3 linked regions of the Homo sapiens genome follow. The protein of the gene in region 1 interacts with the protein of each later gene in a pairwise test. Each region holds a gene or a part of one and is shown on either strand. Other genes may lie near its edges. The genes, in order: HCN1, MARK3 and FMR1.

What was found.
Region 2: the proteins of HCN1 (region 1) and MARK3 interact in binary tests that used the Homo sapiens proteins (3 or more experiments, as listed by UniProt).
Region 3: the proteins of HCN1 (region 1) and FMR1 interact in binary tests that used the Homo sapiens proteins (3 or more experiments, as listed by UniProt).

Annotation. Positions count from the first base shown.
Region 1 is NC_000005.10:45,262,804-45,266,459, reverse strand, and holds part of HCN1 (potassium/sodium hyperpolarization-activated cyclic nucleotide-gated channel 1), read left to right. Parts: intron 1-3,649; coding exon 3,650-3,656. UniProt on the Homo sapiens protein: Hyperpolarization-activated ion channel that are permeable to sodium and potassium ions. Displays lower selectivity for K(+) over Na(+) ions.
Region 2 is NC_000014.9:103,468,841-103,472,496, reverse strand, and holds part of MARK3 (MAP/microtubule affinity-regulating kinase 3), read right to left. Parts: intron 1-3,656. UniProt on the Homo sapiens protein: Serine/threonine-protein kinase. Involved in the specific phosphorylation of microtubule-associated proteins for MAP2 and MAP4. Phosphorylates the microtubule-associated protein MAPT/TAU. Phosphorylates CDC25C on 'Ser-216'.
Region 3 is NC_000023.11:147,932,336-147,935,991, forward strand, and holds part of FMR1 (fragile X messenger ribonucleoprotein 1), read left to right. Parts: intron 1-89; coding exon 90-260; intron 261-349; coding exon 350-428; intron 429-3,656.

The sequences.
Region 1 (3,656 bases):
TATATGAGTCTATATTACAAACTAAGTTTTATCACTTTTTTTGTATTTTTGGATCAACTTTACATTTTATCTTTATATTAGGAATTGAAAATTTGCACATTTAAATTAATCTCAGCAGAGACATAATAAAATGTTTGTAATATAGACTCAAGCAGAAAAAAAAAGCCTTGATAGTAATGCCCTACATAGATGCTTTACCTCGCAAACATCAACATATTTTAAAGTCTTTTCTGCTACCAAATAAAAAAATATATATATACAACCATTAGGCCTTATTAGTTATGCTAGTTTGAAGATTTGCATAATTGCCATAGTAAAGTTAGCTTGGATTGGCTTGCTGTTAACATTCCTAGATATCCTGGAACATTATGTTGTAAGGTAGTATGCATTCATTTTCCACACCTAAACCCTCTTTGCCACCCTCCCCTTCTCTACTTTTTTTTGGTCAGCTCGACTCTGCTCAACCTTCCTCTCTCTGTTTAGATATCACCTCCCTCTAGAAACCTTCTCTGACCTCCCACTCCCTACTAAGCCCAGTTCCTTGGATGCATTCTCCTATAGCCTCTGAAGCTCCCCCATCACAGCACTGCTTTTATTACTGGCTCTAGAGATGCTAAATTTGTCAATGTAGAGCTCATGTTTAATTCACCATTACATTCACAGTACCTAGTATACAATGAATATTTGTTGAAGAGAGGTAGGAAGGGAGGAAGGAATAAATGAACTCAAAAAAGATGGGGCTGGGATCACTTGTGATAAACAAGGAGGTACCTCAACTGCTTCATTCTTATTAAAGGTAAGGACTTCAGATTGATAAATTGTTATGTTGGCTTTTTTTCTGCACTTCACATTCACATCTTCCTTTCTCTCTATATTAGTAGGACAGCAGACTGCATAGAGATCTGAAAATAGATTAGAAGTAAAGGCAGTATTTGGACATCATCATTAGATATAACAAACGTATTAGAAATTCATATTGAAATCTTAGAGATTTAACAAGACCTACTCATTCAGGGAGACAATACCCACAAAAGAAGTAGGCACTCCTGAAGGCATCCTTACTTAATTGGAAAATAACTTCCCTCTTTGTAGTGTGTGAGTGTTTATGTTAGAGACAGAGACTAATTTCTAAGCAATGAGTTTCTTCCTAAACCAGCTAGACATCCTTAGAGAAAACATTAAAATCAGGATATTTCACTAGATAATTTCTGTTAATCTGATACAGCTTCACTTTCATCTAACTTATTGCAGTTAATTTTTTTTTTTTTTTAAGACAGAATCTTGCTCTGTTGCCCAGGCTGGAGTGCAGTGGTGTGATCTCGGCTCACTGCAGCCTCCGCCTCCCAGGTTCAAGCAATTCTCCTGCCTCAGCCTCCTGAGTAGCTGGGACTGCAGGTGTGCACTGCCACGCCCTGCTAATATTTTGTATTTTTAGTAGAGACGGGGTTTCACCATGTTGGCCAGGACGGTCTTGACCTCCTAACCTCATGATCCACCCATCTCAGCCTCCCACAGTGCTGGAATTACAGGCATGAGCCACCGCGCCCAGCCTGCAGTTAATTTTTATAACAATATTTACATGAAATGGTTCGTAATCAATACAGGCAATGCAATTTCTAATAGGCACTAAGCAATTGAATTTTTGATCTTTATAACATAGTAAGAGTGTATTAAAAGTTACATTATTTTTCCCAAGGTTAAAGATACTTAGATTAAGATATTTTGACTGTTCACATAATCAGAAAGAAACATTATGCTTCTCGGTTTTGTGGCCATTGCATATAGATGTATGCTGCAGTTAGTTAAGCAAATATGCTAAATAAGCATTTATATTTATTACTAATGTAGGAGTTTTTGTTCTTTGGGAAATTAGGACAGTCTGTAAGTAGGGAGAGGTAACTATTTTGGCAGTCATTTAAAATGATTGCATTCCTAGCAGTCAATGAAATTACAATACATATTTATCTTCAAAAATATATTTTGTTACCTTTAATGTGTTAGTTTATTTAGCAATATCGCAAATTGATTCACTTTTCAGTTACCATATTCACTTGGAGATTAGTGTATCAATGATGCCATAGAAAAGTCACTACTTTCCCCTTCTTTCACCAATCCACTATTCATTCTAATAATTATTATGCCAGAGACTGTCTAGTATTGCAAACCACTCAGAAGATGATGGCAGGAAAAGCTGTATTGCAAACCACTCAGAAGATGATGGCAGGAAAAGGTAAAATTTATTGAGGTCTTAGAGGGAGCTGAGAGCCTGCAATGCACTATGCCCTTGGTCCTCACAACAACCATTCAGAAGAGGAAAGATCATAAAGTCAGTCTCAGTCTTGGCTGCATTTAAGAATTCCCTGGGGAAGCTGGGCGTGGTGGCTCACGCCTGTAATCCCAGCACTTTGGGAGGCCGAGGCGGGTGGATCACAAGGTCATGAGATGGAGACCATCCTGGCTAACATGGTGAAACCCCATCTCTACTAAAAATACAAAAAATTAACCGGGCACGGTGGCGGGCACCTGTAGTCCCAGCTACTCAGGAGGCTAAGGCAGGAGAATGGCATGAACCCGGGAGGCAGAGCTTGCAGTGAGCTGGGATGGTGCCACTGCAACTCCAGCCTGGGCATCAGAGCGAGACTCCGTCTCAAAAAAATAAATAAATAAAATAAAATAAATAAATAATAAATTTTAAAAAAAGAATTTCCTGGGGAAATTTGCTTTTAAACTACTGAAATTCAGAGCCCATGTATGATTATTTAGATTTAATTGGTAGGGAACAAGTGGATGTTAGTATTTTTTAAAGCTCCAGAGATAAGAAAAATATCCAACTAGGACTGAGAATGACTGGTGTAAGACACTGGGTCAAAAGCAAAACCTGATACAGTCCTCCTCAGATTTGCATTTGGGAATCACCTGGGGATCTTAGTAAAATGCAACATCTGATTCAGCAAGTGGGGTCAGGCCCAGGAGGCTGAGTTTCTAGCAAGCACACAGATGAGACAGGGGCAGTTGGTTCATTTTCCATAGCAAGGATGTGCAATCACTTTTTTGTGTATATGGTCTTTCTCAGCCCTGTTACCTGCCAACCATGTTTTTTTTTTGTTTTCCTGGGCACTGTTCTTAGTCTTCTCATGTCCTGATCTCCTTTCAGGTAAAATGAGATTATGAACACACCTATCTGACAGGGTCGCGGGTTACATAAAATCATCTACCTAAGGTCTTTTGTAGAGTGCTTATCACATAGTACGTGTTCAAATGTTCTCGCTTATGTCTCCATGGTCCTTTCTTGAAAAAGTAACTTTAAAATCAAATGTTGATTCCAAGCCCATCCTATTCCAAAAGCCCTTTCTTCCCCCATTCTTCAAGGTGGCCCTCATGTTAAATATCTCCATTTCTTCTGTAAAGTGGCTCTTTGCCATATTACAGGCCGTTCAACTTGAGTAGAAGGTAAGAGTTCCCAGAGAAATACAGGAAGTGTGAAAGGTAGGAGCCACATTGGTATTTGGTGTGTAAAGGTGAGTGACTGGCTTTTTAAGCCTCTCCTGTGAAGCACAGCTATACTTCTGTTTGCAGGAGCCACTCTCACTTGGCGTTGTCATCAGTCATTGGTAGGCTTTCTAAGTGCCTATCTTTCTTTTGCTGACAGGAAAGAA
Region 2 (3,656 bases), on another chromosome or scaffold:
TTTGTTTTTGTATTTTTAGTAGACACAGGGTTTCACCGTGTTAGCCAGGATGTTCTCGATCTCCTGACCTCGTGATCCGCCCACCTCGGCCTCCCAAAGTGCTGGGATTATGCGACCGGCCAGAAATTTCATTTTTATGTAATCAAATTTGTAAGTCTTTTATTTCATGGGTTTGGTGTTTGGGGTGACAGAAACACCTTCACCAGTCCAAGTTACAAAGCAAATAATCCCAAGGTTTCTTTCAATATTTCTGGAGTTTTATTTACATCTTTTTTTTTTTTTTTTTTGAGACGGAGTCTCGCTCTGTCGCCCAGGCTGGAGTGCAGTGGCTCGATCTCGGCTCACTGCAAGCTCCGCCTCCCGGGTTCATCCATTCTCCTGCCTCAGCCTCCTGAGTAGCTGGGACTATAGGTGCCCACCACCACGCCTGGCTAATTTTTTCTATTTTTTAGTAGAGACAGGGTTTCACCATGTTAGCCAGGATGGTCTCGATCTCCTGACCTCGTGATCCACCTGCCTCGGACTCCCAAAGTGCTGGGATTACAGGCATGAGCCACTGCGCCCAGCCCTATATTTGTATCTTAACTCCAATTAGAATTCATCCTTGTATAAGATGTGAGAAATTGATCCAAATTAATTTTTTTTCTGAGAACTACCAAATTGCCCCAATACCACTCATTGATTAGTAAACAGTGATTTTTTTTTTCATTTTTTAAAAAACAAGCTAACCCCTTGAAAATCAGATGATCACCATTCGCAGAAAAAGTGCACACATATGGGGTGTTCACATGTGGGTCTCAAACGAGGAAGGACAGCTACAGATTACATCGTAGCTTTAGAGAAGCAGGCACCCATGCAGAGGTCAGCATCCACAGGCAAGGAAAAGGGAAGGGAGAGGTGAGACGAGGCAGGAGGATGAGGTGAAAGTTAGCCCGGCTATACAGGCTTGCCTGCCTTCAGAAATTCCAAGAAAGATGAGGATTATGAAAAAGCTACTCCAATGAGGTGCTTCAGTGGAGAAAAAACACAGGGCTTGGACCAGCAGGCCTGAGCTCTGCCCCAGGTGTTTCTCATTTACTATGTAACCTTGGGAGACTTGGTAATCTCTCTTGGTCTATTTAGGGATAAAACAGAGGTTTGGTGAGTGTACAATACCATGTCTAAAGCTCTTTTTATCTCTAAAATTGAGCTGGGGGGAAAAAGGCACTAATAATCTGGATGGAATCTATGTGCTTAAGGAATAACTTACTAACATATTCCTTAGAGAAATGTGAAAATCCCATTGTCAGGTTTCTTCTAGGATTGAGGGACAAGTTAAACCAGATGGTTTCAGGGCAATATATGGGCATTTAATTGCCATGTGGTCCATAAGCACTAGAAACCCCCCTTGTTAGTGACTAACATGAACACAAAAAAGGCAGACCTAGATCAACACGTCACCTACAAATGCTAGGAGCACAAATCCTGATGTGAGAATGAGTTCTGAGCTCTCAGTTACACCCTAGAATAGCAGGCACTGTAGATGGTTTACTAGTGATATTAGTACACTGTTGCTTCAGTCTAAACCATGTAGAAAGGCAAGCAACAGAAGGAAGAGAAATGGAAATCAAGCCAAGTGTAATCATTTTTAGTACAAAATCAAAGCTGTCCACACCTAAAATGCCCTGTGCAGTCCTAAGTGTCAAATCTCAAGATGAAAGTATTAAGATGGAAAATGTCCAGAGAAGAGAAATAAAATGAGGCCGAGCGCAGTGACTCATGCCTGTAATCCGAGCACTTTGGGAGGCTGAGGTGGATGGATCACCTGAGTTCAGGAGTTCGGGACCAGCCTGGCCAAATGTGGTGAAACCCCGTCTCTACTAAAAATAAAAAAATTAGCTGGGCATGGTGATGCATGCCTGTAGTCCCAGCTACTCGGGAGGCTGAGGCAGGAGAATTGCTAGAACCCAGGAGGCGGAGGTTGCAGTGAGCCGAGATCGCGCTATTGCACTCCAGCCTGGGTGACAAGAGTGAAACTCCATCTCAAAAAAAAAAAAAAAAATAGATTTAGTTCCTGAATCCTGGAATAGTAGAATTAAAGGAAATATCTGCAATGTTAACATTTATAGTTATGGGCAAGTAAACACACACGCTAGCCTCAGGACTCTGACACACAGGCTGCCTTGAAGGCAGAGCAACTGTAGAGCCTGGTAAGCCTACCCACTGGGAGTCTTATGTCTCATAAAGGACTGGCTTCTAGGTGAAGTTTAAAAGGGAGAGTGGCTTAACCACACTAACAGCAAGAGTATGGATGAGAATGACACAGTACAACATTTAAACCAATTAAGGCAAAACTGAGGTTCCATATATTCTCCAGGGCTGTCCTGTCTATTATGAGAGTTACTGGCCACAACTGGCTATATATTACACTTAAGTACAAATTTTTTTTTTTTTTTTTGAGATGGACTCTCACTCTGTCACTAGGCTGGAGTGCAGTCACACGATCTTGGCTCACTGCAACCTCTGCCTCCCAGGTTCAAGCGATTCTCCTACCTCAGCCTCCTGAGTAGCTGGAATTACAGGCACACACCACCATGCCCAGGTAATTTTTTTATTTTTAGTAGAGATGGGGTTTCACCACGTTGGTCAGGCTAGTCTCGAACTCCTGACCTAGTGATCCACACGCCTCGGCCTCCCAAGGTGCTGGAATTACAGGCATGAGCCACCATGTCCGGCCAGGAAAATTTTAAAAGGGTAAAAATCAGCCAGGCCAATTACAGACTCACACGTGTAATCCAGCACTTTGGGAGGCCAAGGTGGGTGGATCACCTGAGGTCAGGAGTTCTAGACCAGCCTGGCCAACATGGTGAAATCCCGTCTCTACTAAAAATACAATATTGGCCAGGTGTGGTGGTGTGTGCCTATAGTCCCAGCTACTTCGGAGGCTGAGGTTGCAGTGAGCGGAGATCATGCCATTGCACTCCAGCCTGGGTAACAAGAGCAAAATTCCATCTCAAAAAATAAACAAATAAATAAGGCCAGGCGCGGTGGCTCACACCTGTAATCCCATCACTTTTGGAGGCCAAGGTGAGTGGATTGCTTGAGCTCCCAAGTTCAAGACCAGCCTAGCCAATATGGTGAAACCCTGTCTCTATTAAAAATACAAAAATTAGCCGGGTGTGGTTGTGCATGCCTGTAATCCCAGCTACTCAGGAGGCTGAGGCAGGAGAACTGCTGGGACCTGGGAGGTGGAGGTTGCAGTGAGCCAAGATCATGCCACTGCATTCCAGCCTGGGCGACAGAGCCAGATTCCATCTGAAAAATAAATAAATAAATAAATAAATAAAAATAATAAAAAATAAATAGAAATAAAAAAGGTAAAAATCATTTCCTCAGTTCAAGTACTTGATAGCCACAAGTGGCCAGTAGCTTCTTGACTGGACAGCACAGATACACAAAACTGTAATCATCTCAGAAAGTTCTACTGGACAGTGCTACTCTACAAAGTAAATCCAATGCAGAGGTGAAGAGAGTGAATAGAACTACAGACTAGCAGTTCTATTCAGTTCGGTACAGCGCCCAGTTCTAGCGCTGGGCATGGTGGCTCACGTCTGTAATCCTAGCACTTTAGAACGCTGTGGTGAGAGAATAGTTTGAACTTGGGAGTTTGAGACCAG
Region 3 (3,656 bases), on another chromosome or scaffold:
CAGGGTCAAGATAATTTACATGGCTGGCCTAAATACAGTTGTCGTAATAGTTGATAAAGTGTATTCATCAGACGTCCATTTCTCTTCAGAGTTCAAGGCAGCTTGCCTCGAGATTTCATGAACAGTTTATCGTAAGAGAAGATCTGATGGGTCTAGCTATTGGTACTCATGGTGCTAATATTCAGCAAGCTAGAAAAGTACCTGGGGTCACTGCTATTGATCTAGATGAAGATACCTGCACATTTCATATTTATGGAGAGGTAAATATTTTACTGCATAGTTTTTTTTTCCCCAAACAAGTATTTCAGCTGGCTAATCTTTTGTCTTAAAATGTTTCCCCTTTTATTAGGATCAGGATGCAGTGAAAAAAGCTAGAAGCTTTCTCGAATTTGCTGAAGATGTAATACAAGTTCCAAGGAACTTAGTAGGTAAGTCAGAAGTATCTGTTGACATATAGTACAACAACTAAGTTTAGGTAAACAGTTTATTTATAGTGATAGAATTCCATTTTTTCTTACTGGAGGGTATCATTTAATTGAAACATAGTCTTTGAAATATGATCTGTTCTTTTTTTTTATTATTTAAGTTTTAGGGTACATGTGCACAATGTGCAGGTTAGTTACATATGTATACACGTGACATGCTGGTGCGCTGCACCCACTAACTTGTCATCTAGCATTAGGTATATCTCCCAACGCTATCCCTCCCCCCTCCCCCCACCCCACAACAGTCCCCAGAGTGTGATGTTCCCCTTCCTGTGTCCATGTGTTCTCATTGTTCAATCGATCTGTTCTTACAGCATACAAAAAAATATTTGTTAAGTATGATGCTCAAAGGTTACATTTTCAGAAGGTATTCAAAAGAGATTGCTTTTCTAGTTCAAACCTACTAATACCTGAAAGGATAAATCTTGCCCAGCCCTCCTGACTGTATACCTTTTATATCTTAAAATTAAATAATTTTTCAAAATGAATGATATTTGGGGACTTTATGATTTGAAATAGATTTGTATTTGATCTTTCTTATGGGACTATAAAATGATAGCATTCATTTTAATTATCTCAGGGTTGAAGATCTGAACATAGGTTACTTAAATCTAAAAAGTTCCAAAGCTAGAAGAAACTTCAGATGTCTCTGGGACTTTCTGCAAAGTCAATAGTAATTCTTCATTTTGACTTGAGTAGTGTTTTATCACCATCACCATCGTGAGTATCAGCAAATATTTAGGAGCTCTTCACCAATACTCCTAAATGCTGCAGATATCTTTAGTAGAACATATCAAAACCAGGTGCAGTTTTATCAAGAAAGCTACATATGTTTTTAATTTGTAAATAAAATTGGGACATACTGCCTATATGTTTTTTATCTTTTAAACTTGAGATCATGGCCATTTTATATAAAGTAATACATGTTCTTTGGAAACTTTAAAGAAGAAAGCAAGGACTTCTCATACATTCTGTTTACGTAGTTTCAATGCTAATTTAGCCTGCTTTTTTGTCAGCATAGACTCATAAACATCTTCCTTGTCATTAACAAACACTAGAAATGATAAATGTATCTCCCAAAGAAAATTAGCTTGAAGATAAAGTGCAAATAGTAGGAAAATAATGCAGAAGTGTTAGCTCAACTGTGTACTACAGACAACTGGAGAAATGTGTTTGTAATGTTACTAAGGTAACTTGCATACCAATTGTATGTGTACAGAATGTATGCATAGCGCAAGATAAAGTGCTAATCTCAAGACAGTTGGGTGATGAATAATATTTATTTTCTTCTTTACAGCTTGTCAAGCAATTGCATACCTTTTGTAGTTAGAAAGGTTATTGTAAATTTAGGAATTCTTATGGAAAAAGAGCTGGTAGTTGTTTTGTTTTTTTTTTTTAATAGCAAATGAGTAGAGAATTATGTGTCAGATTCATTAAAGTTGGTTTTGAAGATGGCATGATGGTAGTGGGGAAAGTGCTTGGGCATTGGAGTTGGATCTGGATTTCAGTCCTACTTTATTCTTTGGTGGCAATGTGAGCGTGGGTCACTGTCTTAGCCCCCCTGAGAATTATTTTTCTTACCTATCAAATGTGATAATAGGATCCACCTCATAGAGTTGATGTGATAATTAAATTGGAAGATATAGTAGGGGACAATTCTGGACACAGTAGGGGACTCTGTTCTTCACCTTATTCAAAACAACTCCATTTCAGTAGAACAGAATCACAGTAAATTGCTCTTTGGGATTTGGAAATAAGTGTAATGTAGAATTGGATTATTTGCTATTAAATATTAAAAGTAGATTCTACCTGTGGTTACCTGGAAAGAAGAGGATCTCAGAAATAACCAGAAAGACTGCTAAAAGTAAATCAGCCTTGTTTTTGTTTTGTTGTTTCTAGTTAGTAAAATGAGATAATTCTGTTTTAGAGATGGTCCACTGCAACACTGGGAACGTTGGAACTTTTCAGAAAGCATTTTTGTGTAAGATTCTGCAAGGCAGATCTTTAGAGAGGTGTCATAATCAGTTTTGCATGTGTTTTGTTTGAGTCAACCAACGTTATTTGTGATCTCTATTTTTCACAAACTCTCTTTGGTATGTGCACTAATTTATCTTTTCATTAAAATTGGATTCTTCACTCACTAAGAATGAATTGGTATGACTATTCAGTCAGCTATAGTTAACACACAGTACTTAGGATAATTAAGATATTATCTTAATAAAAACATCCCCAAATCTCATTTTTCATTTTGTTAACTCACTTAGATCTTTATTAAAGTCAACATTAATTCATGAAAATGTAAGTGTTGCAGTTTAAAATCAAACTGTGTGAAGACTCCAAGTAGCTTCTCTCACCTCACCTTTCCCCTTTTCGTTATAGAAGAACAGAAATAATTGACAGAAGGACCTAGACCAAGAATCCTGATTTAATGGTGTCAGATCTGTTCTATGACCAGTCAAAGAGTTTCTAGGGGTGAATGAGGCAGCCACACACAGCAAGAATGTCAAAGCTATGCTCTGATTACAAGAGCCACAAGAATTTTTTGTGAGAAGGCTTTTCACTGAGTTCTTATCTAGCATTGGCTCAAAGCAAATTTTTGCTTCCATCTTTTCCCCCAACTTTGCCTTGAGCTTTGCCTTTAAAGGCGAAAAGGAAAAAATGGAAGATGAGATGGTGAGGGCAAGCACATGGTGGATGTGGCCAATGTAAGGGTACTTAGGTACCTTGGGTGAGCCCTCAGAATCAGATGTAGTTCACATGTACATTTCCAGAATTAGTAATTCTTAAGTTTGTAATGTCTTGCTTTACCACTCGTGTCATGATGCAAATGAAAGCAGTCATTTTCCAGTAATGTATATGATTGTAAAATAAATAAGGAAATGATCAAGTACCTATTTTTTACTGGTACTTGAAATCCCAAGTTTTAATAGATGTTACTGAAAAATACTTAAATTGGTTTAAAGCTTTTTCATTGTGGTTTTGAGTTATCTTAAAGTGGGTTTTCTTAATCTTTTACTCTGTGACTAATCCCTTCACTTTTTAATACATTGCTAAAGTTTGTAAGTAATGCACAGGAGTGATACTCTGTTAACACATTGACCTTGAAGAATTTGTATTCCTTTTGGATGTATGTATAGCTGCTTAAGCCACTTTCAGACTTAGATTATCTTT